Regions from separate parts of the Homo sapiens genome. Here all the other regions are linked to region 1. The links come from fine-mapping of genetic effects on gene expression. A gene starts in region 1. Each other region holds a variant in brackets. All regions are shown on one strand. Distances are between the middles of the regions. Region 1 holds the start of KLK10 (kallikrein related peptidase 10). Region 2 overlaps KLK7 (kallikrein related peptidase 7). Region 3 overlaps SIGLEC9 (sialic acid binding Ig like lectin 9). Region 4 overlaps LRRC4B (leucine rich repeat containing 4B). Region 5 holds the start of SHANK1 (SH3 and multiple ankyrin repeat domains 1).

Evidence for each region.
Region 2: its variant is fine-mapped to the expression of KLK10 in lung (TOPMed, PIP above 0.99).
Region 3: its variant is fine-mapped to the expression of KLK10 in atrial appendage (GTEx, PIP above 0.99).
Region 4: its variant is fine-mapped to the expression of KLK10 in esophagus muscle (GTEx, PIP above 0.99).
Region 5: its variant is fine-mapped to the expression of KLK10 in cerebellum (GTEx, PIP 0.98).

The regions. Positions count from the first base shown.
Region 1 is chr19:51,017,217-51,022,315 of GRCh38, reverse strand. KLK10 (kallikrein related peptidase 10) reads left to right here and starts at 2,607. Exons shown (of 6, transcript NM_145888.3): 1 at 2,607-2,689; 2 at 3,177-3,273; 3 at 5,026-5,099. The coding sequence starts at 3,186. KLK11 (kallikrein related peptidase 11) reads left to right here. Exons shown (of 6, transcript NM_001136032.3): 6 at 1-80.
Region 2 is chr19:50,973,834-50,978,932 of GRCh38, reverse strand. KLK7 (kallikrein related peptidase 7) reads left to right here. Exons shown (of 6, transcript NM_005046.4): 6 at 1,242-2,465. The coding sequence ends at 1,397. LOC105372442 (a long non-coding RNA gene) reads right to left here. Exons shown (of 7, transcript XR_007067308.1): 7 at 4,207-4,273. Among named protein-coding and RNA genes, the nearest start is that of KLK6, 6.8 kb to the right of the region's middle. The variant A/G (reference allele first, on the strand shown) is at 2,086.
Region 3 is chr19:51,129,537-51,134,635 of GRCh38, reverse strand. It overlaps SIGLEC9 (sialic acid binding Ig like lectin 9), which reads right to left. Exons shown (of 7, transcript NM_014441.3): 7 at 4,326-4,745. The coding sequence ends at 4,557. Among named protein-coding and RNA genes, the nearest start is that of SIGLEC9, 7.2 kb to the right of the region's middle. The variant G/A (reference allele first, on the strand shown) is at 2,148.
Region 4 is chr19:50,557,830-50,562,928 of GRCh38, reverse strand. All of the region lies in intron 1 of LRRC4B (leucine rich repeat containing 4B), which reads left to right. Among named protein-coding and RNA genes, the nearest start is that of LRRC4B, 8.1 kb to the left of the region's middle. The variant G/A (reference allele first, on the strand shown) is at 2,066.
Region 5 is chr19:50,715,104-50,720,202 of GRCh38, reverse strand. SHANK1 (SH3 and multiple ankyrin repeat domains 1) reads left to right here and starts at 401. Exons shown (of 24, transcript NM_016148.5): 1 at 401-797; 2 at 3,241-3,538; 3 at 3,725-3,928; 4 at 4,473-4,544. The coding sequence starts at 3,284. The variant G/A (reference allele first, on the strand shown) is at 2,523.

The sequences.
Region 1 (5,099 bases):
GTTTGTTCTCTGTTGTATCCCCAGCCCCAAAGACAGCTCCTGGCCATATATCAAGGTTTCAATAAATATTTGCTAAATGAGTGAATCTACTGAGTGCTTACTATGTGCTAGACCCTGATCCAATGGCTTTTATTTTATTTTATTTTTTGACAGAGTCTCGCTCTGTCACCCAGGCTGGAGTACAGTGGTGCTATCTCTGCTCACTGCAACCTCCACCTCCTGGGTTCAAGCAATTCTCCTGCCTCAGCCTCCTGAATAGCTGGGATTACAGGTGCCTACCACCACATCCGGCTAATTTTTGTATTTTTTAGTAGAGATGGGGCTTCACCATGTTGGCCAGGCTGGTCTCGAACTCCTGACCTCAGATGATCTGCCCTCCTTGGCCTCCCAAACTCCTGGGATTACAGACGTGAGCCACCGCGCCCGCCCGGCTTTCATTTATTAATTAAAAGAAATTAAATTAATTAATCTATTTAGGAGACAGTCTTGCTCTGTTGCCCAGGCTGGAGTGCAGTAACAATCACAGCTCACGGCAATCTCAATTTCCTGGGGTCAAGTGATTGTCCTCCCTCAGCCTCCAGAGTAGCTGGGACTACAGGCACATGCCACGAAGCCCAGCTAATTTTTGTATTTTTCGTAGAGACAGAGGTCTCAGTATGTTGCCCCGGCTAGTCTCAAACTCCTGGGCTCAAGCAGTCTGTCCTCCTCAGCCTCCAAAAGTGGTGAGATTACAGGCATGAGTCGCTGTGCCTGGCCTCCAAGCACTTTCAAATGTATCAACTTAATCCTCACAAAACCCTGTGAGGTCGGTACTGTTTTCATACCTATTTTATAGTTGAAGAAACAGACACAGAGAAGCAAAGTCACTTGCTCACAGTCACGTGGCTAGGAGAGCAAGGATCTGAAGCAAGGCGATCTCTTAATTACCAAGTGATGTTCCTGGAGTAAGGCTCTGTTTGTTTCCTTTCCTGTAAAATGCTGCATGCAAAAGTATAACACAGTAAGTAAAGAAGTCAGTTAGCCTGCACATACTAAGACCTAACCAAAGGAGCTTATTGTTTTTCTCCAACTTCCATGATAGGTAATTAGATAGTGGAGACCTCTGCTGGCCAATATGGTAGCCACTAACCGCAGCTGGCTCTTCCAATTAAAATTACATAAAGCCAGAAATGTAACTCCTCTGTCTCACTTGTTATATCTCCAAGGCTGGATAGCCACATGTGACTGGTGGTGGCTGGATTAGCTAGTGCATATAAAACATCACTGCAGAAAGTTCAGCTGAGCAGCACTGAGTTAGATGGCCTCTGAAGAGGATGTCCCACGGAGAGAATCCAGAACTCAGGATCTTTTTTTTTTTTTTTCTTTGCGACAGAGTCTTGCTCTGTCACCCAGGCTGGAGTGCAGTGGCGTGATCTCGGCTCACTGCAACTTCTGCCTCCCAGGTTCAAGCAATTCTCCTGCCTCAGCCTCCCTAGTAGCTGGGACTACAGGCCTGTGCCAACATCCCCAGCTAATTTTTGTGTCTTTTTAGTAGAGATGGGGTTTCACTATGTTGGCCAGGCTGGTCTCGAACTCCTGACCTCGTGATCCGCCCCCCCTTGGCCTCCCAAAGTGCTGGGATTACAGGCGTGAGCCACCGCGCCCGGCCAGCTCAGGATCTTTTGGGATGGTCTGTTCACCTCGCAGAAGTGGCTGGCATGAGCAATAGGAGCCCAGAGTGGAACCAGGGCCTTCTGGTTGTCAAGTGGACTTGCTGTGTGACCTCCTGTGAGTCTCTGCCCTCTCTGAGCCTCTCACTCCTCACCTGAGATGAGGGAGTTGGCTGAGGTGATGCCGATGCCCCTCACAGCTTTGACCTCCTATGATTCAGGGGCCTGTGTGTCACCTGGTGGCACACAGATGGCAGGGAGGGTGTGAGATGGCCACACATGGGTATGAGGCAGAGCCACAGCCCCCCCCAACACGCACATGGGCTAGTCACTGGGACACACACAGAGCTCACTCACGGCCACAGAGTGGGCGTGGGTTTCCCTTTTTCCTTGTTTCTGTTTCTCTTAGCCTCGGCGCCTCCCTCCCTCCCTCTCTCTCTCTCTCTCTCTCTCTCTCTCTCTCTCTCTGGCTCTTTTAGCCTTGGTTTGTTACAATCTCCCTTTTCAAGCCAGCCTCTGTCCCTCCTACTCAACCTGCTTTATCTCTAGGCCTTCCTCCTTCCTCTTCCACAGTCTGGCTTCTCACATTGTCACTCTAGGTATGCACTTCCCATTGATTTCCTCTTGCTCAGTGGCCTCTCATCCTGCCACCCCTAGCCTTGCTGGGGACGTGAACCCTCTCCCCGCGCCTGGGAAGCCTTCTTGGCACCGGGACCCGGAGAATCCCCACGGAAGCCAGTTCCAAAAGGGATGAAAAGGGGGCGTTTCGGGCACTGGGAGAAGCCTGTATTCCAGGGCCCCTCCCAGAGCAGGAATCTGGGACCCAGGAGTGCCAGCCTCACCCACGGTACAATTAGACAGAGGGAAAGGGAGGGAGCCCGGGGGTGGGGGTAGGGGAGGGTGGAGAAGCTTCCGGACTCCTTGGGGTTAAAAGGGAAGGTCCCGCCAGGGGTCCCTGGGCAGAGGATACCAGCGGCAGACCACAGGCAGGGCAGAGGCACGTCTGGGTCCCCTCCCTCCTTCCTATCGGCGACTCCCAGGTGAAGCTACCTGCACCCCACCCGGGTTGGGGTGGATTGCGAGAGGATGGGTGGGGACCCCCGGGCCACAGGCAGGAGCCGGCTTAGAGCCTCGGTTTCTCCACCTGCGGGACGCGGAAGTCCCCCCGCTGTGAGGTTGAGAAAGAGGCTCCCACTGGCTCCGAGCCTCGGATCCCCACCCCGCGCGTGAAGGAGGGGGAAACCTCGGGCGCGGCGTGGCTGCAGCCAGGGTAGCTGGGGCGCGGAGAGCGCTCCACTCGGGCACAGGGAGGACGGGAAGATGCCGCGAGGGGCGTCATTAGGGTAATTGTGCCCATTACCGCTGTTCCAGCCCGAATCTCCCGTCTGCCAGCCCCTGGGGTTATCGGCTGCAGGTCAAAAGGGTGCTTGCGGGCTGGGGTGGCCCAGGCTGGGCGGATGAGCGCGGCGAGGTGGGGGTCTCTAACGGAGCATCTGTTTTAACCCGCCCCTGCACACACCCCAGCAGATCCTGGCCATGAGAGCTCCGCACCTCCACCTCTCCGCCGCCTCTGGCGCCCGGGCTCTGGCGAAGCTGCTGCCGCTGCTGATGGCGCAACTCTGGGGTAAGGTCGGGGGCAGGGGGCGGGGAGAGGCGCCGGTGGGAGGCACGGGCGGGAGGAGAATGTGTTCCCGTCACCAAGCCCCGCGCACCTCTCCTCCCCCGAGACCCCAGCACCCACCCAGCGCTCCGGAGCACGGCCCGCCCCCAAGTCAGCTGGGCCCTTCTTCTGGCTCGGCCCCTGGGTGACCCGCCCCACTCAGGCCCTGTCCGATTTCTGCCACCCGGATCCTCGCTCTTCCGTGGACTCTTCGCCGCGTTCTTTCTCCTCCTCTTACGCCGCCCCATCCCGGCCCCGCTCCATTTTACACTACCGTGTTTTGTTTTGTTTGTTTGTTTGTTTGAGACGGAGTCTCGCTCTGTCGCCCAGGCTGGAGTGCAGTGACGCGATCTCGGCTCACTGCAAGCTCCGCCTCCCGGGTTCACACCATTCTCCTGCCTCAGCCTCCCGAGTAGCTGGGACTACAGGCGCCCGCCACCAAGCCCGGCTAGTTTTTTGTATTTTTAGTAGAGATGGGATTTCACCGTGGTCTCGATCTCCTGGCCTCGTGATCCGCCTGCCTCGGCCTCCCAAAGTGCTGGGATTACAAGCGTGAGCCACCGCTCCCGGCCACACCACCGTGTTTTATCCTGAGTCTTGCCTTACCGCTTTTTGCCCTCTCCCCTCACTTTTTTTCTTCCTCTTTCCCTTTCTCTCTCTTTTTTCTTTTTCTTTCTTTCTTTTCTTTCTTTCGTTCTTCTTTTCCTTCCTTCCTTTCCTTCCTTCCTTTCGTTTGTTTCTTCTTTCTTGTTTTACTTTCTCTCTTATTTTTTCTTCTTTCTTTCTTGTTTTTTTCTTTCTCTCTCTTTTTCTTTCCTTCTTTTTTTTTTTTTTTTTTTTTTGAGACAGGGCAGTGCTCTGTCTCCGTGGCTGGAGTACAGTGGCCCAATCAGAGCTCACTGCAGCCTCGACCTCCTGGGCTCAAGCGATACTCAGCCTCCAGAGTAGCTGGTACCACAGGCATGCACCACCACATCCGGCTTTTTTTTTTTTTTTTTTTTTTTTTGAGACAGGGTCTCACTCTGTCGCCCAGACTGGAGTGCAGTGGCCCAATCTCGGCTCATTGCAACCTCCACCTCCTGGGCTCAAGCGATCCTCCCACCTCAGCCTCCCAGGTAGCTGTGACTACAGGCGCATGCCTCCGCGACTACTTTTTTGTTGTTGTTGTTGTTGTTTGTTTGTTTTTGTAGAGACTGGGTCTTGCTGTGTTGCCCGGGCTGGTCTTGAATTCCCGAGCTCAAGCGGTCCAACCGCCTCGGCTTCCCAAAGTGCTGGGATTACAGGCGTAAACCACTGCGCCCCACCCCTCTCCTGGTTTTCAATCCCGTTTTGTTATTCACACCCCTTCCTCTCCCCGATCCCCGAGTTCTATCCCCGCACCCTTACCTCCCCGCCGCGTTCAATCCCCGCCCCTCTATCGACCAGCGACGTTCTAGCCAGCTCTCCAGGCGCGCTGCGTTCAGTCCCTGCCCTCCAGACCCACCCTATTCTGTCTCATTACTCCACGCTACCCTATCCCAGCTTCCTTCCACTTTCACGCGCTTCTTCTCCTCCCATTCCCTTCGGTGCACGCGAAACCCCCAATATTTCCCTACCACCCTCGCGTTCTGGCTGCGTCCCCCGTCCCCGAACGCAGTCCAGTGCCACAGCCCAGCTCCAACCCCAAACCCAGACCCTGCCCTCCGTGCTTTGATTCCGTCCCCTTTCTTTCTCCAGCCGCAGAGGCGGCGCTGCTCCCCCAAAACGACACGCGCTTGGACCCCGAAGCCTATGGCTCCCCGTGCGCGCGC
Region 2 (5,099 bases), 43 kb after region 1:
TCTCTCTCCTCCCCTCCCTCTCTCCTCTCCCTGCCCCCCTGCTCTCTCTTTTTTCCTCTCTCTCTGTCTCCTCTCTGGCCCTCTCCTCTTTCTCTCTCTCCCCCACTTCTCTGTCTCTCTTCATCTCTCTCCCTCATCTCTCCTTGCCCCCTCCTTTTTACTGTCTCTCTCTTTCTCTTTCTTCTATCTCTCTCCTCTCCCTGCCGCTCCCCCATCTCTGTCTTTCTTTCTCTCTCTTTATTCTCCTCCTCTCTTCCAGTCTCTCTCTCCTCTCCCCACCCCCACCCCATCTCTCTCCCCACACCTTCCCCCCCTTTCTCTTTGTCTCTCTCTTCTCCCTCTTTCTTCTCCACCCCCATCTCTCTCTCTCTTCTCTTCCCACACCCTCCCCATCTCCCTCATCTCTTTGTCTGTCTCTCTTCTCCCTCCTTCTTTTCCACCCCCATCTCTCTGTCTCTCTCTCTCCCCATACCCTTTCCCTCTTCCTCATCTCTCTTTGTCTCTCTCTCCTTTCCCTCTTTCTTCTCCACCTCCAACTCTCTCTGTCTCTCCACACCCATCCTCCTTGCTCACATCTGCACCTTCAGCTGTCAGGGGATGTGGGATGGTGAGTGTTAGGGATAGAGGAGATGGGAGAGAGATGACTGTCCTAGAGAATAGGGTGTTCCCCTTCTCCCCTGGTGAGGGCCAGTTTCATGAATGTGCAAGCTCTGCACGGACACAGAGCCCCACACTCAGAAGGGTCTCAAACTTAGTCTAATGCATTCCTGCTGTTGTCTTGAAATTCTCAATAATTTTTGAACAAAGGGCCCTGCATTTTCGTTTTGCACCAAGTCCTGTAAATTATGTAACTGGTCTTCACCCTGGTCTCCGAGACCATCGTGTCCCCCTTTCCTGCGCCACAGGGCACGCATCCACCCCTTGGAGATGATGTTCCTTCTCCCACTAGCTTGGAGCAGGGTCCTTAACATTGGAAAATAAAGAGTGCTCTGATCCTGGAAGCCCCACCCCTTCTCTGCAATTGGTCTCATTGGCCAAGGGTCAAACCAGTGTCTTCAAAGGACCTAGTGTGTCCCTAGCACTAGCTCTCCCATTAGTCCCCAGAGACAATGAGTCTCTTCTCATTGGCTATGGTGGAAGTCCATAATCTGCAAGACAAAGACCGATAACTGAGGAATGTATGAGAATGAGTTGGGCTTTGATCTGAAGCCAAAGTTAATCTCCGGCTCTATTCCCTCTAGGGTGACTCAGGGGGACCGTTGGTGTGCAGAGGTACCCTGCAAGGTCTGGTGTCCTGGGGAACTTTCCCTTGCGGCCAACCCAATGACCCAGGAGTCTACACTCAAGTGTGCAAGTTCACCAAGTGGATAAATGACACCATGAAAAAGCATCGCTAACGCCACACTGAGTTAATTAACTGTGTGCTTCCAACAGAAAATGCACAGGAGTGAGGACGCCGATGACCTATGAAGTCAAATTTGACTTTACCTTTCCTCAAAGATATATTTAAACCAACCTCATGCCCTGTTGATAAACCAATCAAATTGGTAAAGACCTAAAACCAAAACAAATAAAGAAACACAAAACCCTCAGTGCTGGAGAAGAGTCAGTGAGACCAGCACTCTCAAACACTGGAACTGGACGTTCGTACAGTCTTTACGGAAGACACTTGGTCAACGTACACCGAGACCCTTATTCACCACCTTTGACCCAGTAACTCTAATCTTAGGAAGAACCTACTGAAACAAAAAAAATCCAAAATGTAGAACAAGACTTGAATTTACCATGATATTATTTATCACAGAAATGAAGTGAAACCATCAAACATGTTCCAAAAGTACCAGATGGCTTAAATAATAGTCTGGCTTGGCACAACGATGTTTTTTTTCTTTGAGACAGAGTCTCTGTTGCTTGGGCTGCAATGCAGTGATGCAATCTTGGCTCACTGCAACCTCCGCCTCCTGGGTTCAAGTGATTCTCGTGCTTCAGCCTCCCAAGTACCTGGGACTACAGGTGTGCACCACCACACCAGGCTAATTTTTTGTGTATTTTTACTAGAGACAGGGTTTCACCATGTTGGCCAGC[A/G]TGGTCTTGAACGCCTGACCTCAGATGATCCACCCACCTTGGCCTCCCAAAGTGCTGGGATTACAGGCATGAGCCACCACGGCCAGCCCACAATGATATTACAAACCTATTAAAAATGATACTTAGACAGAATTGTCAGTATTATTCAAGAACATTTAGGCTATAGGATGTTAAATGACAAAAGGAAGGACAAAAATATATATGTATGTGACCCTACCCATAAAAAATGAAATATTCACAGAATCAGATCTGAAAACACATGTCCCAGACTGCATACTGGGGTCGTCATGAGGTGTCTCCTTCCTTCTGTGTACTTTTCCTTGAATGTGCACTTTTATAACATGAAAAATAAAGGTGGGGAAAAAAGTCTGAAGATCTAAGATTGGAGAGAGGTGACCTTTCAGGAAGGGAGACTAGAAAGAAATATGTGCCTGGTTTTGAGCCCTGGTCCTGCCGGCCCTGTTCCAGGGCATATTTCCATTTCCCAGATCTCAGTTTTTCCTGTCTGTAAAATGGGAGAGAGAGGAAAGGATGGAGAGAGGAAGAAGGAAGGGAGGAGGGAGGAGAGAACAGGCCAACTTCATCAGCGTGGGAAGGGGTGTGAAAGTGTTTCTGAGCATCTCACGAGTGACAAGTGAGGAGGGAGGCTGGCGGTTTTCAGAGGGATTGGGATGACAGTAGACAGGACACAGGGGTCCCACGGGGGTCTGCCAGAAGTAAGCAAACAGTGCCGGAGGAAGATGGTGGCACCTGCTCCCCAAGAAGGGAGGGAAAGGAACCTCGGGAAGCGGGTAGGATGAGGGAGGAGTCCTCTGTGACTCAGAGCCTGGCCACAGCCCCAGCCATCTAACATCAAAGATCCTCTGTGTGGTCACACCTCAGACGCTGCTGACCGAGGAGCCACTCCAGCCCAGGACACGCCCTCCTACCTGTTCTTCCTGTTTTTCTCCCAGAATTCCCTCCCCACCAAGATCCTCCAGATCCTTCCCCTCCTTATCTCATCTCCCTCTGAGTCTCTCCTAACCCAGGCACCACAGCCCTGTCATATTGCAGAAATTCTGCAGCCGCTAATTCTGATTCTCCCATATAGGAGGCTAACACAGAAAACGCAGGAGTCCAGGCCCCCAGCCCCTCCTCCCTCAGACCCAGGAGTCCAGACCCCCCAGCCCCTCCTCCCTCAGACCCAGGAATCCAGACTCCCCCCAGCCCCTCCTCCCTCAGACCCAGGAGTCCAGAACCCCAGCCCCTCCTCCCTCAGACCCAGGAATCCAGACTCCCCCCAGCCCCTCCTCCCTCAGACCCAGGAGTCCAGACCAGCCCCAGCCCCTCCTCCCTCAGACCCAGGAGTGCAGGCCTGCCCCCACGAGCCCCTCCTCCCTCAGACCCAGGAATCCAGACTCCCCCCAGCCCCTCCTCCCTCAGACCCAGGAGTTCAGAACCCCCCCCACCAGCCCCTCCTCCCTCAGACCCAGGAATCCAGACTCCCTCCAGCCCCTCCTCCCTCAGACCCAGGAGTTCAGACCCCCCTGCCAGCCCCTCCTCCCTCAGACCCAGGAATCCAGACTCCCCCCCAGCCCCTCCTCCCTCAGACCCAGGAGTCCAGACTCCCCCCCAGCCCCTCCTCCCTCAGACCCAGGAGTCTAGACTACCCCCAGCCCCTCCTCCCTCAGACCCAGGAGTTCAGACCCCCCCCCCCGCCAGCCCCTCCTCCCTCAGACCCAGGAGTCCAGACCGCCCCCAGCCCCTCCTTCCTCAGACCCAGGAGTCCAGACTCCCCCCAGCCCCTCCTCCCTCAGACCCAGGAGTTCAGACCGCTCCCCGCCGCCAGCCCCTCCTCCCTCAGACCCAGGAATCCAGACTCCCCCCAGCCCCTCCTCCCTCAGGCCCAGGAGTCCAGATCCCCCCCAGCCCCTCCTTCCTCAGACCCAGGAGTCCAGACCCCCCGCCCCAACCCCTCCTCCCTCAGACCCAGGAGTCCAGGCTCCCCCCCAGCCCCTCCTTCCTCAGACCCAAGAGTCCAGACCCCCCGCCCCAACCCCTCCTCCCTCAGACCCAGGAGCCCAGGTCCCCAGCCCCTTCTGTTTCTGGGCCTGTCAAGTTTAAGAATGTCAAACATTTTCGACCAGTCATTCCCCTGAAGTTTTAGCAACATTTTCTCTCTCTTCTGCAAGGCACTCCAACATTCAATCTGGAATTTTAAAAAGTAACAAAACATTGCATTTGCACTAAGTCAGCCTGGAGATCCCTGGCCCTGGCCCTCTGCTCTCCTATACGCAAGCTACAGGTAGATTGGTTTGCAATGACTGAGATGGTACTAATGTTGATTTTTTTTAAGTAATTCATTTTTCTTTGGGTAAGCAGTATAGTGTGGTAGTTAAGGGACTAGCTCTGGATCTTGGCTTCTTGGGTTCAAATCCCAGTTCTAGTCCCTACAAGCTATTTTCCTTTAAGCTCATTACTTCCCCTGTCCCTGTTCCTTCATCCTTGAAATGGGAGAAAAAGCACCTACTTTCTAGGGTTATTACAGAGATTCAATAAGTTAATATACAGAAAGTGCTCAAACATTGTGTGGCACGAGGTAAGCCTTCCTTCAATGGTCATTGGTTTTAGTTTAGTTTAGTTTAGTTTAGTTTTTCTTTTTTTTTGAGACAAAGTCTTGCTCTTGTCACCCAGGCTGGAGTGCAATGGCGCGATCTCAGCTCACTGCAACCTCTGCCTCCCAGGTTCAAGTGATTCTCCTGCCTCAGCCTCCTGAGTAGCTGGTATTACAGGTGCCTGCCACCATGCCCGGCTAATTTTTGTATTTTCAGTAGAGACCAAGTTTCACCACGTTGGCCAGGCTGTCCTCAAACTCCTGACCTCAGGCAATCTGCCCGCCTTGACCTCCCAAAGTGCTGAGATTACAGGCATGAGCCACCGCGCCTGGCCCAGGCATTGGTTTTTATTGTTTATGACTTCTGGCACTTTTTTCTGCTTACAGTCTCATGAAGTTTCCTTATAATTTTTTTTTTCTT
Region 3 (5,099 bases), 110 kb before region 1:
GTCTAATAAAAAAGAGGGAACCAAAAGCTTTCATCATTTAAGAGTTTTTAATTTCTCTTTCATGAAAGGTAAATTTACATACAGTAAAATACATAGATTTTATTTGCGTGATTCAATGTGTTTTGATTCATAACCACATAATTACTATCCCAGTTAAGACATAGACTATTCCTAGGACTGGCTGGGCGCAGTGGCTCACGCCTGTAATCCCAGCACTTTGGGATGCAGAGGTGGTTGGATCACAGGGTCAAGAGATCAAGACCATCCTGGCCAACATGGTGGTCTTGGCCAACATGGTGGTCATCTCTATTAAAAATACAAAAATTAGCTGGGCATGGTGGCCCGTGCCTGTAATCCCAGCTACTCAGGAGGCTGAGGCAGGAGAATCGCTTGAACCCTGGAGGCGGAGGTTGCAGTGAGCCACTGCACTCCAGCCCGGCAACAGAGCTAGACTCCTTCTCAAAAAAAAAAAAAAAAAAAAAAAAAAAGAAAAGAAAGAAATAAAATTCCCAGGACCCCAGAAAGTTCCCCTGTGTGCCATTCACGTTAATCCCCAAATCCCACTCCCAACCTGAGGCAGTCACTGTTATGAATTTCTGTCTTTGTAGATTAGTTTGGCCTGTTCTTGAACTTCATATAAGTGAAACTACAGAGCATGTATTCTTTTGCATCTGGCTTCTTTGACTCAAGATGTTTTCAAAATTTATTCAAGCTATTGCATGTATTATATATTGTTATTATATATTGATGAGTATTATGCCGTTACATGGAAACATGTAATCAATTTTAAATATTAATTACTTAGATTTTTATATTATTTTCTCACTAAATGTAGGACATTTCAAGTGCTCAGTAGCCACATGTGGCTAGTGGTTACCATATCAAACAGCACAGTTGTACAAACATTATAGTCTCCGCTTTTACTTTTAGGTTTATGATTCGCTTCAGGCTAATTTTTTGCGTGTGATGTGAGAAACAGCTCAACACTCGTTTTTACCAACCCTAATTTCACTTGTTCCGCTAACATTTATTTTTTATTTATTTATTTATTTTCAAGATGGGGTCTCACTCTGTCGCCAGGCTGGAGTACAGTGGCACAATCTTGGCTCACTGCAACCTCTGCCTCCTGGGTTCAAGCAATTCTGCTTCAGCCTCCCTAGTACCTGGGATTACAGTTGCCTGCCACCACACCCAGCTAATTTTTTTTTTTTTTTTTTGTATTTTTGGTAGAGATGGTGTTTCACCATGTTATCCAGGCTGGTCTTGAACTCCTGACCTCAAGTGATCCACCCACCTCAGCCTCCCAAAGTGCTGGGATTACAGGTGTGAGCCACCGCGCCCGACCACCTACCAACATTTATTAAAAGTCTTTCCTGTCCCAATTGAATAGACTTGATGCTATTCAGTTGACTGTATATGTGTGGGTCCATTTGTAGACTGTACTCTAGTCCACACCACACTCTCTGTATTACTCTAGTGTTAAAGTCTGCCTTCTCTAAATGTGTTTCTTATCACAATGATTTGGTTATTCTAGGTTTTTATGTGTTTATATAAATTTCAGAACCAACTTATCAATTTATAACTATATATGTATATATATAAACTTATATTTACAATATACATACATATACACTCATCTATACTTATGTACATACATATACACATATACATATATTTTATATATATATAGGAATTTTGACAGGGATTACCTAAATCAATATGCAGACAACTGACATTTTAACCATTTTTGCCTTCTAATCCATGAACGTGATATATTTCTTCCTTCATTTGGGCCTTCCTTAAGTCTCTCAAAAATGTTCTATATTCATCAGTACAGAAGCATTCCGTGTTATCTTAGTTCATTTGTGTTGCTATAGAGTAATATCTGAGGCTGGGTAATTTATAAAGAAAAGAGGTTTATACAGCTTGTAGCTGCAGTGAACGCCAAGAATGAAGCACTCAGACAATTCCAGCTGAGCGGGATGCGGCGGCAGCAGCATCTCTGAAAGAGTGCCGCCCCAGAATCCGTCCGCCAAGTGTTTCTCGAAAGGGTTTGTTAAACCAAAATGTCCACCAGATGGCCTTTTGCGGTCGGGTCATGAGACACATATGGCCTGGTAAAAACACTCAGACTACAGTCTCAGGAG[G/A]CTGCTTTCCGCGCTCCTTATCACACATTCCGTTCCTTGCCCTGTTTTCAGGGTCAAGGAGTTTCAATCTCATGCACAAACAACACGCACACGGTGCCTCAGTATTTTTCCATGCCTCGACCTCAAATGCCTTGTACATAAGCTTGAATATGTTGCCGTGCACCCCCCACAGTTTATTTGGCTCACAGTTCTGCACCACATAGAAAATGCTTGGCACCAGCCTTTGCTTCTGGTGAGGGTCTCAGGAAGCTTCCACTCATGGTGGAAGGCAAAAGGAAGTCTGCATGTGCAGACAATACGGCAAGAGAGGAAGCACGGGCTGGGGAGGGGAGGTGCCAATGTCTTTTTAACACCCAGCTCTTGGAGAAACTCTCACAGGAAGTAACAGAGTGAGAACTCTCTCATTACCTTGAAGACAGCACCAAGCCATTCATGAGGGATCCAATCCCGGGACCTGAACACCTCCCATTTGGCCCCACCGCCAACACTGGGCATCAAATATCAACAGGAGGCTTGGCAGGGCCAAACAAACCATATCCAAACCATAGCATAGGATTTTTTTTTTTTTTTTTTGACACAGACTCTTGCTCTGTCGCCCAGGCTAGAGTGCAATGGCACAATCTCAGCTCACTGCAACCTCCGCCTCCCGGGTTCAAGCAATTCTCCTGCCTCAGCCTCCCAAGTAGCAAGGACTACAGGCATACGCCACCTCGCCTGGCTAATTTTTGTATTTTTAGTAGACATGGGGTTTCACCATGTTGGCCAGGCTGGTCTTGAACCCCTGACCTGAAGTGATTTGCCCTCCTCAGCCTCCCAAAGTGTTGGGATGACAGGCGTGAGCCACCACGCCCAGCTCGGATATGATTTTTTACTTATTTATTTATTTATTTATTTATTTTTTTTGAGACGGAGTCTCGCTCTGTCTCCCAGGCTGGAGTGCAGTGGCACGATCTCAGCTCACTGCAAGCTCCACCACCCGGGTTCACGCCATTCTCCTGCCTCAGCCTCCCGAGTAGCTGGGACTACAGGCACCCGCCACCACGCCCGGCTAATTTTTGTATTTTTAGTAGAGACAGGGTTTCACCATGTTAGCCAGGATGGTCTCGATCTCCTGACCTCGTGATCTGCCCACCTCGGCCTCCCAAAGTGCTGGAATTACAGGCGTGAGACACTGTGCCCGGCCATGATTTTTAAAAAATTGTTCCTTGGTACTTTACGGTTTTTTGATGCTGCCGTAAATGGGCAAGAGTCTAGATTTAGGGAAGTTTTAGTGCTTCCTCCAGTCCTTTGATTTCTTCCTATCAGGGCTACTGCATAAAGTGATTGTTGTGAGATGTCCCTTTCCTCGTTCGGGTGCTGCATGTAGGTAAATTTTTTTGGATCATGTTGTTTAATTTGCCAGATGATCCTGTGCCCCTTTGGAAACGTTTCTCATTCCCTGGGTTTGGCTTTAGAGGAGGGAGATCATGAGCTGCTGCTTCACTCTCTCCCTCAGCTCAACCCAGAAGTCCAATCCTTGAACTCCATTTTCAAAGACAGAGACAGAAGAAGGCCCAGGAGGAGGGCGTTCTAGGAGGAGGGTCCCCAGTGTGCAAGGACTGAGGTATGAACCAACAGGGCATGTTGCAAATGATTTGGAAAAGACCAGAGGGACCAGTGGGTTAAGTGGTGAAGATGGAGGAGTGGACTGAAGTGGGAGAGTGATGTCACGAAGAGGATGTGATGGGAGGTTCAGGATCCAGGAGCCATGGATGGGCTGTGAGCAGTGCGGAGAGAGCTCAGTGTGTCCTAAAGATTCCCACTGGACTGTGCACAATACGTAGACTGCAGAGAGTAAGGCGGCCTAGCAGTCACAGGGTGGGCAGATGAGGCTGAAGAGGTGGGCAGGATCCAGATGCTACCTAGACCTGATTTGCAGGCTGAGGTTATTTCCTGGAAAGTTGCAGAATCGCTATTTTGCAGGCAAGTGACACAGACATATAAGTACTAGTTGCCACCAGAATCAGGAGAGGTTCCCAGCAGGACCTTTGTGTTCAAAGCACAGCGATCCATCAGTGCTCGGCATACACCTGTGCCAGGAGCTCTAACGGGATGTGACTCCTGGAATGGTGACCACAACCTTGCAAGTAGGGCTTCTCATTCCTGTTTTACAGAGCAGGAAACCAAGGTACAGAGAGGTAGGAATTTGTCTGTCTTTTAGTTAAAAAAATAAAAGGGAGGGCACAGTGTGGATTCAGGTTTGAGATACTTTGACTCTAAAGCCTGTGTGCTTTTCACTCTGCACATAATTCATAGTGTTATCATAGCTCATCACGTTGAGGGCTGTTAATTCTACAAGAATCAGCCTCTGACTTCTCCCTTGCCTGGAGGGGCTGTGATCCCTCAATCAGGGTGAGTCTCTGCAGTTTCTCATCTGTGGATCTTGATCTCCGAGTACTCGGTGTCAGTGGCCTCCTGTCCCCGCGAGTCCCAAGGCTTCACCATCTGGAAGCTGAGGGATGCATACTGGAGCTCTCCTTCCCCCACTGAGGAGCGGGCAGAAGCTGGGGGAGGCTGGTCTGGGGGACTGTCTTCTGCCCAAGGTTCAGTCAGGGGCCCCTGAGACATGGGAGAGAGAAGTGAGTCAGAGCAGACAGTGAGGATGGGGCGCGGTGGCTCACATCTGTAATCCCAGCTCTTCAGGAGGCTGAGGTAGGCGGATCACCTGAGGTCAGGAGTTTGAGACCAGCCTGGCCAACATGGTGAAACCCTGTCTCTACTAAAAATACAAAATTAGCCAGGTGTGGTGGTGTGCACCTTTAATCCCAGCTACTCAGGAGGCTGAGGCAGGAGAATCGCTTGAACCTAGGAGGCAGAGGTTGCAGTAAGCCAAGATTGTGCCACTGCACTACATCCTGGGTGACAGAGCGAGACTCCATCTCAAAAAACAAAAACAAACAAACGAAAAAATGC
Region 4 (5,099 bases), 460 kb after region 1:
GTCTCTACCAAAAATACAAAATCAGCCAGGTGTGGTGGTGTGAGTCTGTAATCCCAGCTACTCAGGGGGCCGAGGCAGGAGAATCGCTTGAACCCGGGAGGCAGAGGTTGCAGTGAGCCGAGATCATGCCCATTGTACTCCAGCCTAGACGACAAGAGCAAAACTCCATCGCCAAAAAAAAAAAAACAAAAAAAAAAACCCTGGATGGAGAGGAGGAAGAGAGTGAGGCAGGGCAGGAGGGGGCAGCAGCCCCAGCCACTCCCAGGCTCACTGTGCCCCCCAGATGCTGCCCCAGCCCAGGGAGTTGAGCTTAGGCCCCAGAGTTCTTGTTCAAACACTACAACAAAGGTCAGAAGGCTGTGCAGCCACAGCTCCACTGCAGAGGCCAGCCCCAGGGGGTAAACGCAGAGGAGATTGGCCCTCCCCTTGCCTCAAACCCTCTCTCCAGAGCTGGAGATGACCATGATCGTAGCTAACTGATTGAGAGCATGCCACGAGCCAGGCTCAGTGCTCAGTCTCTTATGTGGATTTTTTCCGTGTATTCCTCAGGCAACCCTGCAAGGAGGCACAGTCATCATCCCTGGTTTGACAGATGGGGAAACTGAGGCCCAGAGAGGTGGGTCCCTTGCCCAAAATAGTACACCTAGAAATGGCAGAGCCGGGACTCCAAACCCTGGTGTGGGCCGCCCTGCAGGTCGCCTCCCTCCATGAGACTCCCAGTTTACAGAGGGGGAAACTGAGGCCAAGAGAGGAGAATGCACTGGTCCATTGGGCCCTAAAAGTGGAAATTCAATTTTTTTTTTTTTTTTTTGAGACAGGGTCTCACTCTGTCACCCAGGCTAGAGTGCAGTGGCGCGATCTCGGCTCACTGCAACCTCTGCCTCCTGGGTTCAAGCAATTCTCCTGCCTCAGGCTCCTGAGTAGCTGAGACTACAGGCACGCATCACTACTACACCTGGCTTATTTATTTATTTATTTATTTATTTGTATTTTATGGTAGAGACACCGTTTCACTGTGTTGGCTAGGCTGGTCTCAAATTCCTGACCTCAAGTGACCCACCTGCCTCAGCCTCCCAAAGTGCTGGGATTACAGGTGTGAGCCACTGCACTCGGCCATAAAATTGTTAATAATCACAATAATTAGGTTGTTAATAACAATACACTCATAGAAGGTTAGACTTTTGGAGTTGGGGGAGAACAGGGTCTTGCTCCGTTACCCATGCTGAAGTGCAGGGGCACAACCACAGCTCACTGCAGCCTTGACCTCCTGGGCTCAAGCGATCCTCCCGCCTCAGCCTCCCAAGTAGCAGGGATTACAGGCGTGCACCACCACACCCAGCTAATTTTTGTATTTTTTGTAGAGAGGGGGTTCTCACTATGTTGCCCAGGCTGGTCTGGAATTCCTGAGCTCATGCGATCCTCTTGCCTTGGCCTCCCAAAGTGCTGGGATTACAGGCATGAGCCACCACGGCCAACAAGTCTAGACTTTTGAAGGCATTGAAGCTGCTATAACTTAGGGGCTGTCAGGTTCTCAATCTTGTTTATGCCTCTCAAGCACCAGAAGGGAAAGGACTCCCCATGCTGATTCTCACAGTAGAGAATCAGCCCTCACCGACGTGGGGGTTGTAGGATCTTGTTGCGGGAAGGGCAAAGACCCCAAATGTGATCCCATGGGCCCCCCACTCCTTGACAGATGAGTGGTTTTGATCCAGCCAGAAATGCTGGATTTACAATGGCAGAGAAGTGGCGGGGTTGGGTGGGGAGGGGGCTGAGTCATGGAATGGGAAAACTGTTTGTTCTTCTGACCCGTAAGAATAAATACCGTTTTTTGTTTTTTTAAGACGGAGTCTCACTCTGTCACCCAGGCTGGAGTGCAGTGGTGCTATCTTCGCTCACTGCAACCTCCACCTCCCAGGTTCAAGCGATTCTCCTGTCTCAACCTCTTGAGTAGCTGGGATTACAGGCACGCACCACAGCGCCTGGCTAATTTTTTGTATTTTTAGTAGAGACGGGGGTTTCACTGTGTTGGCCGGCCTGGTCTTGAACTCCTGACCTCAAGCGATCC[G/A]CCCGTCTCGGCCTCCCAAAGTGCTGGGATTACAGGCGTGAGCCACTGCACCCGGCCGAGAATAAATGATAACTTTTAATGTAGCTGTCACTTAAGTGTCAAGCACTGTACATGGTCTCCAGGAACCCCAACAAGCTATTAATAGGTGTCATTATCTTCACAGACTGCAAGGCGGAGCCTGGGGCGGGGGACACAGGGAGAAAGTGGCCAGCCAGAGTTTCAACCCAGTTTTCCTCAACACCAACACTCTTTCCACCTCTCCATCCTTCCTCTTCACAGGACGGTGTGATGAGGTAGACGAGGAGAAGGAGGATCTTCTGGATCCTGGAATAAGTTCACTGAGCATTTTCCTTTTATGCCCCAGGCATTTCCCTAAACTCATCACAGATATCAGACCTTCCCCACCTACAGGTGAGCAGACCGAGGTCCTGAGGGGTGAAGCTCCCTTTGCAAGCCAACATGGCTAGTAACTGTGGCAGCTGAGGTTCAAACCCAGGTCTAGTTGATTCCAAGGCCCACCTTGAGCTACACCCCTATACAGAGCTCCGGAGAGGAGAGGAGGGGGCTTCATTCTTCATCCCGAAATGGAATATAGGAGTGAGATGGGCACTTAGAGACCCTTCAGCCCCTTGCTGTGAGACCTGCATCCCCTGGGAAACAGAATGACAGCCTCACCCTAGATATGGCGATGCAGAATCTGCAGTTTTTTGTTATTGTTATTGTTATTTTGAGACAGAATCTCACTCTGTCACCGAGGCTGGAGTACAGTGGTGCGATCTCGGCTCACTGCAACCTCCGCCTCCCAGGTTCAAGTGATTCTCCTGCCTCAGCCTCCCGAGTAGCTGGAACTACAGGCAGGTGCCTCCACGCCCAGCTAATTTTTGTATTTTTATTAGAGACAGGGTTTCACCATGTTGGTCAGGCTGGTGTCAAAACTCCTGACCTCAAGTGATCTGCCCGCCTCAGCCTCCCAGAGTGCTGGGATTACAGGCGTGAGCCACTGCGCCCGGCCAGAATCTGCCTCTTAACAAGATTCCCAGACAGCTGGACACACATTCATGTCTGAGAAGCATTGCTCCAGTTCACATAGTTTTCAGCTTTTTATGACTTTTAGCAGCACCCTTTTGTTGTAAACAAAATAACTATGCACAACCCTGTGAGAGAAAACAGATCGGATCAGCGTCCTTCCTAGGCAGGACCCCTATGAGTGGAGCTGGCGGGGGCCACGCCCCTCCCAACCTGCAAACTCGCTCTCACGCCCCACTGCCTGAGCCTTGGCAACAAATACTGTTGTAAAAACCACCAATGCCAGGCCAGGGCCCAGTTCTCTTCTGGGGTGAATTCAGTTCAGGGGTGTTAAGCCGCCCCATCCCAGCACAGAATCACAGTCCAGGGACCTGGAAGTTCAGTTTTTTTTCTTTCCTTTTTTTCAGACAGAGTCTCGCTCTGTTGCCCAGGTTGGAGTGCAGTGGCGCCATCTCAGCTCACTGCAACCTCTGCCTCCTCGGTTCAAGTAATTCCCCTTTCTCAGCCTCCCCAGTAGCTGGGATTATGGACGCCCGCCACCAGGCACGGCTAATTTTGTATTTTTAGTAGAGGTGGAATTTCAGCATGTTGGTCAGGCTGGTCTCAAACTCCTGACCTCAGGTAATCCGCCCACCTTGGCCTCCCAAAGTGCTGGGATTACAGGCGTGAGCCACCACCCCCGGCCCTCTTTTCTTTTTCTTTTTCTTTTTCTTTTTTTTTGGAAGTTCAGTTTTTATCTCAAAGCCTACCCAAATCTGGCTATCCATGGGTATGGCAGTGCCTCAGTGTGCCCTTCTGTAAAATGGGCAGCAGCAGCTCTCGCCATGGGCCCCTTGCGGGGACTGAATGAGCTCTTGCAGGCAGCTCCCGCAGCGCAGGCCTGGCACAGGCAACCAAGGCAGCGCTGGTCAGGTGCTCAGGCCTCAGACTCTCCATAACATTCCATTTCTCCAGCTGTGATCTCCCTGGCTTCTCCATGAGTCCCATAAGAGCCCTGTGAGGTAGCTGGGCAGGGCCAAGGAGCAGACGGAGCGGCACTTCAGGGACTCAGGCAGAAGCAGTTCCAAGCAGGATCAGTGGTTAGATCCATGCTGTCCAACACAGTAGCTGCCACAGCCACTGCCATGCATGAGCAGCAACAGTCACATCAAGTCGAATGAAGAATTCAGTCCCTGCTCCTTCTCGACATACGTCACGTGCTCCGTAGCCTCGTGTGGCTGGTGGCCACCAGTGCTGGACAGCACGGAGAGAACATTTGCATCATTGCAGAGAGTCTGTTTGACAGTGATGCATTGATATATTGAAATACAGCCGGGTGCCGTGGCTCACGCTTATAATCCAGCACTTTGGGAGGCTGAGGCAGGAGGATTGTTTGAGGCCGAGAGTTTGAGACCAGCCTGGGCAACATGGCAAAAGCTTATCTCTACAAAAATACAAAAAAATTAGCCGGGTGTAGTGGTCCACGCCTGTAGTCGGCTACTCAGGAGGCTGAGGTGGGAGGATCACCTGGGCCTGGGAGGTGGAGGCTGCAGTGAGCTGAGATCACGCCACTGCACTCCAGCAGAAATTTGTGTGATGTGTGTGTGTGTATGTATGTATGTGTGTGTGTATGTGTGTGTGTGTGTGTGTGTGTGTGTATGTATACAGTTGACCCCTGACCAACTTGGGGGCTAGGGGTGCCAGCCCCCTGTGCAGTTGAAAATCTGCCTGTAACTTTTGACTCCCCTAAAACTTAACTCCTAATAGTGTTCTGTTGATTGGACACCCTACCAATAACATAAACAGTCAGTTAACACATTCATGTTAAATGTATTCTATCCTGAATTCTGACAATAAAGTAAGCTAGAGAAAAGAAAATGTTATTGAGAAAATGCTAAGGAAGAGAAAATACATTTACTAGCCACTAAGTGGAGTGTATCATCGTAACGGGCTCCCCTGATTGTCTTCACGTTGAGTAGGCTGTGAGCAGGAGGAGGGGGCGGTTGTCTTGCTGTCTCAGGAGTGGCAG
Region 5 (5,099 bases), 300 kb after region 1:
TTGGGGGGACAGGGTGGGAATCTATAGCCTTCACACTTAAATTTGGGGGTGTAGAGTCTGGCAACAAATATTTATTGTGCCCCACTCTGTGTAGGGCGGCGGGGAGCTCTCTGGGAGGGGGTGGTCCTGAGGTGTGTGTGGGGGGGCACCTTATGGGGGCAGGACCCCTTCCTCGGGGTATGGGAGCAAGCAGGGGCGGAGTCAGGATTTGGGGACTCGGAGGTGGGGAGGAGTGGTGGGGGAGGGCAAGGGTAGGGGGCGGAGCCGGCGGTGGTGGGGGATGGGCGAGGTTTGGGGGCGCGGGGAGGGGCGATGTCTCCTCCGCCGGCTCCCGGAGGGAGGGGAGAGGGCGGAGGGAGGGGAGGGAGGGAGAGAGGGAGGGAGAGAGACAGGGTGAGGGAGAGACAGCGAGAGCGAGAGAGCGAGAAGGGTGGCAGAGGAGGCGCGGAGCGGGCGGCGGCGGCGGCGGCCCGAGGAAGAGGAGGAGGAAGAGCAGGCGGAGACGCGGCGCCCGGAGCCGGCCGGACCGAGCCGGGGGCGGGCGAGGAGGGGCGCGGCGGCCGCGGCGGAAGGGGGGGCGCTCTGCGGATGGCCAGGCCCGGCCCGCGGGGGGGGTGAGGTCCTCGGCCCTCCCGCCCTCCCCCCCGGTCCCCGCCCGCCCCCTCCCCGGGCCCGCTCGCCCTCCGGGGCGGTGGGGCATGGCCTGAGGGTCCCCGTCTCCGGGGGGGTGGGGGGTGGGGGGAGGGGGGAGGGGCCGCGGGCGCCGCCGACCGGGACTCAGCAGCCCCGCCAGGCAGGTAAGGGGGTCGAGAACCTGGGGGTTTGGGGCAGCTGCGGGGCCGGGGCCGCGGGAGGGGGCGAGGGCGCCCCGGATGTCCTTGGCCCGGCGCCGGGCTCCTGGCCTGGGTGTGCGGCTGGGGGTACGGGTGAGGTGGGGAGCGTTGCCCTGGGCGACACCAAATTGGGTTACGCCCGGGTCCCCGGTGCCCCGTCCCAGATCGCATCCTTGATGGGAGGGCGCGCCCCCCACCCCCGGCCAGCAGAGCCCCTATCCCGAACCCGCCTCCCGGCTCTCCGGGGCCAAGGGCTCGGTCCTGGTACCCGCCTCCCCGCCCAGCCCGGCCACTCCCCCGCCTCGCCCTCCCTGGCGTACCTGGGCCCCTCCGCCAGGTCACCCTGGTCCCCACTCCCCTCCAGCGAGGGTCTAGGCCCGGGCCTCCTCCGCCCCTTTCGACCCCTCCAGCTCCCGCTTCTCCTTCCAGGCTCCTCCAGTCCCTTTCCACCCCTGTCCAAGCTCCCTGCGTCCCCACCAGGTCTCCAGTCCCTACACCGCCGGCCGGCGCGCCCCCTCGGCTCCCGCCCCCGACTCCTGCTCCCCGGTGCCCCCCGCCCCTCTCCCCGGCCGGGTTCTCCCCCACCAGTTTCCCAGCCTCGGCTCCGGCTCTCTCTCCCCGCCCCTCCCCGCCTCCCTCCGCCTCCATTCATTCTCCCCGGCCCCGCTCTCGGCCACGCCAGCCGCCCCCTGTCCCCCCACAGCCTCCCAGGGCACCCCCTCTCTCGCGTCCTCCACCACCCCCCTCGCCGATTCCTCAGCCCGTCTCGGTACCAGCTGCGTGCCAGCTATTCTTAGCCGCGGAGCGTTTGATTCATGCCGCCCCGGCGGAGCGTGCCCGCTCCCTCCCGCGAGCCCTGAGGGGGAGGGGCCGGAGCCGGCCCGGGGGGGCTGGGGCAGCCGTACGCGCGGGGGGCCCTAGCCAGCTTTTCTTTCATCCCACCGGCCACCCCCTCCGAGCGGGGTTGAGGCTGGGGGTCAGCCAGGGTCAGCCGAGGGGGAGTGTCTGCGGGCCCCAGATCGCGAGGTGGGCTGTGCGGCGGGGCAGGGAGGAGGCAGCCGGGGTCTCCGCAGGGACGAGGTGGGGCGGCGTGGCTGGGTACCTGGAGGGGGAGGGGGCTTCGCAGCGCTGCCGCGCGTGGGGGAGGGGTCCGCCGGCCCTGGGTTAGAGGCTCGCTCGCCCACACCTCCTGGAACTCTCCTCCCACCACACACATTTAGTCTTCCCTTTCCCAACCCCCCAGCCCATCCCCACTCCCCCAAAGTCAGCAGTACCCTCCACTGCTTCCCATCTCCATGGCAACGGTGCAGGAACCGGGCCTGGTGTTGGGGGGAGGGACCAGACCAGACATTCTGGTTTCCGGTGCTGGGGTGGGAGTTGGGGGAGAACAGAAGGGAGGCGGACCCCATTTGGAAGGGGCTCCACCCTCATAAGGCCACCTCAAGGGAGAACAGCAAGGATCTAGAGATGATCCCCCACTCAGTTCCCCAGACCCTCCTCTCACTTCTTAGCCTCCCTCCTAACACCCCCAGTCCTCAGAGTGGAGCCCCTAGTACCCAGCAAGCCAGCCCACCCACCCTGCAGTCCTAGAAAAGAGCTACAGGTCATCTGCAGCCACCCACATCTACCCGGGCCACCACACCACTGTCACCTGGACAGCACTCCCCAGGCCGACCTCCCCACCTACCC[G/A]CACACCCTCTCAAGATGCCCCAGTCTCCAAAAGCCACCTCTTGTGGTTCCCTTGGGGACACCCTAGGCCAAATGCTCTGCCCATGACACCCCCATCTCAGTGCCCCTTGCTCCCCTGGGACGGCAGATTCCCCAGCACTATTCGGCATGCCACGCGTTGTCAGCCACACTTGAGTGAAGTCACCAGCTCCACCCGCTCCAGGCTCACCACACCTCCCTCTCCCCCTTACTACATCTCAGTGTCAGCCTCAGCTTCTCCCCAACCCCACCCCCCGGCCCTGGGATGAGGGGCCAGGCTGGGGCCAGGAGGGCAGGATGCCTGTCAGTTTGTCCACCTGTCTGTCCTTAGCTAATTTTAGCTGCATTTTCTGTGGCCTGGCAAAGTGGGCCAGTAGCTCCCGCGGTGATTCTGCGGTTTCTGGGACACGGCCACGCTGGGTCACCAGCAAAGTGGGGCGCAGGGGGCGGGCTGCAAGCGGGGCCAAGGGCAGGGAAGGAGACACATGCCAGAAGCATGTCAGGGACAGGGGTGTGTGCGTGCCAGCGTGGGAGGAGGCGGCAGGGGAGGCCGTGCAGGCCGAGGGTGTGTCCAGCCTCCTTCCTGCCTATCTTGGGCAGTGGGGGTAGGCTGCCCTTGACCGCTTGACCACCGAATAGCGCCTGCGGCCTCTGAGGGGTCCCGGGCTCCTAGTCTGATGGCCGCCCTTGGCCCCTGCAGCCGCCTGTGATGCTGCCGTCCCCCGTCGCCCCGTGGCCCCACAATGACCCACAGCCCCGCGACAAGCGAGGACGAGGAACGCCACAGTGCCAGCGAGTGTCCCGAGGGGGGCTCAGAGTCCGACAGCTCCCCAGACGGGCCAGGTCGAGGCCCCCGGGGGACCCGGGGCCAGGGCAGTGGGGCACCTGGTAGCCTGGCCTCTGTTAGAGGCCTCCAGGGCCGCTCAATGTCCGTCCCAGACGACGCCCACTTCAGCATGATGGTCTTCAGGATTGGCATCCCGGACCTGCACCAGACAGTGAGTACCTGCCCACTGGCCAGCGGCAGGAGAGGGACAGTGCCCCAACCGACATGGGGAGTCCACTGGTGCTGGGTATCCTCCCAGGAATCACCCCCACACTCAGCTCCTGGCTCACTTCCCAACCCACCTCAGGCTCTCCTCTGGCCCCTGGCCCACCCTAGCCCCTATCTCTTCCCCAACCAGAAATGCCTTCGCTTCAACCCCGATGCCACCATCTGGACGGCCAAGCAGCAGGTGCTCTGTGCCCTGAGCGAGAGCCTGCAGGATGTGCTCAACTATGGCCTGTTCCAACCGGCCACCTCCGGCCGCGATGCCAACTTCCTGGAGGAGGAGAGGCTGCTGCGGGAGTACCCCCAGTCCTTTGAGAAGGGGGTCCCCTACCTGGAGGTGAAGCTTCCCCAACTCCTTCACTGATAAGAGAAGGCATGCCCTAAAACACATCTGCCCCCCACCCACTTTTTAACACACTCGAAACCTTAACGAGGGGGCACCCAGTGTGCGAGTCCAGACCTTCTAAGCATCACAGGGAAGTCAGAGAGTCCTGAGTTCAAATTACCATCTGTTCTGCTTCTGACCAGCTAAGTGGCCTTGGCCAAGTCACTTTCCTGCCCCAAGCTTCTCCTCACCCATCAAATTGGGGGAGGATTCCCAATTACAGTAGGCACTCTAGAACATTCCCTGTGGGGTCCAGACTCCTCCTCCTTCAAGGCAGGGGTTGCAGTGCACATATACCATAATACCCAGCACTGTCGGAAAAGCCACTGCCACCCATCTACCGCCTAGACCAAGGTTCCAGGGCTGTTTTCACTCCCACCCTGAGCTACCCCGGGGAATTAGAAGGGGATCAGACCTTCCCCTACCCCAAGCCTTCTCCCCAGGCCCCTGATTCCAAGTCTCTGTGTCTCTCTCACTACCCTACCCTTGACCTCAGTTCCGATACAAGACCCGAGTTTACAAACAGACCAACCTGGATGAGAAGCAGCTGGCCAAGTTGCACACGAAGGTGAGAAAACCCTGCTGGCATCTATCCCCTATAGCCCCCTACCACTGGAGCCCCCTACCCAACCACTTTCTCTCCCCACCTCTTCCCAATAGACCTCCACATTCCCCAAGCCAGCGATCCCTCTGGCCACTGCCCCCGCTTAACTTGGGATGCTGTACCACATTTGAGACAACCACAAATACCCCCCATTATCCCCATCACAACCCCTTCTTACTTTCCTCTTTTGCCCTTCATCCCTCTGCCTGGGCCCACATCATTCCCACCTGGCCTCCTTTGAGTCTCCCTTCTCTTCCCCTGCCTCCCCCCATATCCATCCAAGGCCTCTTTACTTCCCCACCTTGGCCTAGGACCCTGACACTGAAGGTCCTTCTGCCTAGAGTCTATTTCAAAGACAGGCTACATTTCTCCCAACCTCATAGCCTGAATCTCTGCAAAATCCAACCATTACACCCCCCTTTCCAGCCATATCTGTCCTCCTGGTACCTTGCCCGCCAGTCCTCAGCCCCTGTCTGTCCTGTGTCTCGATGGTGAGAGCTGGGAGGAAATCGGGAACTG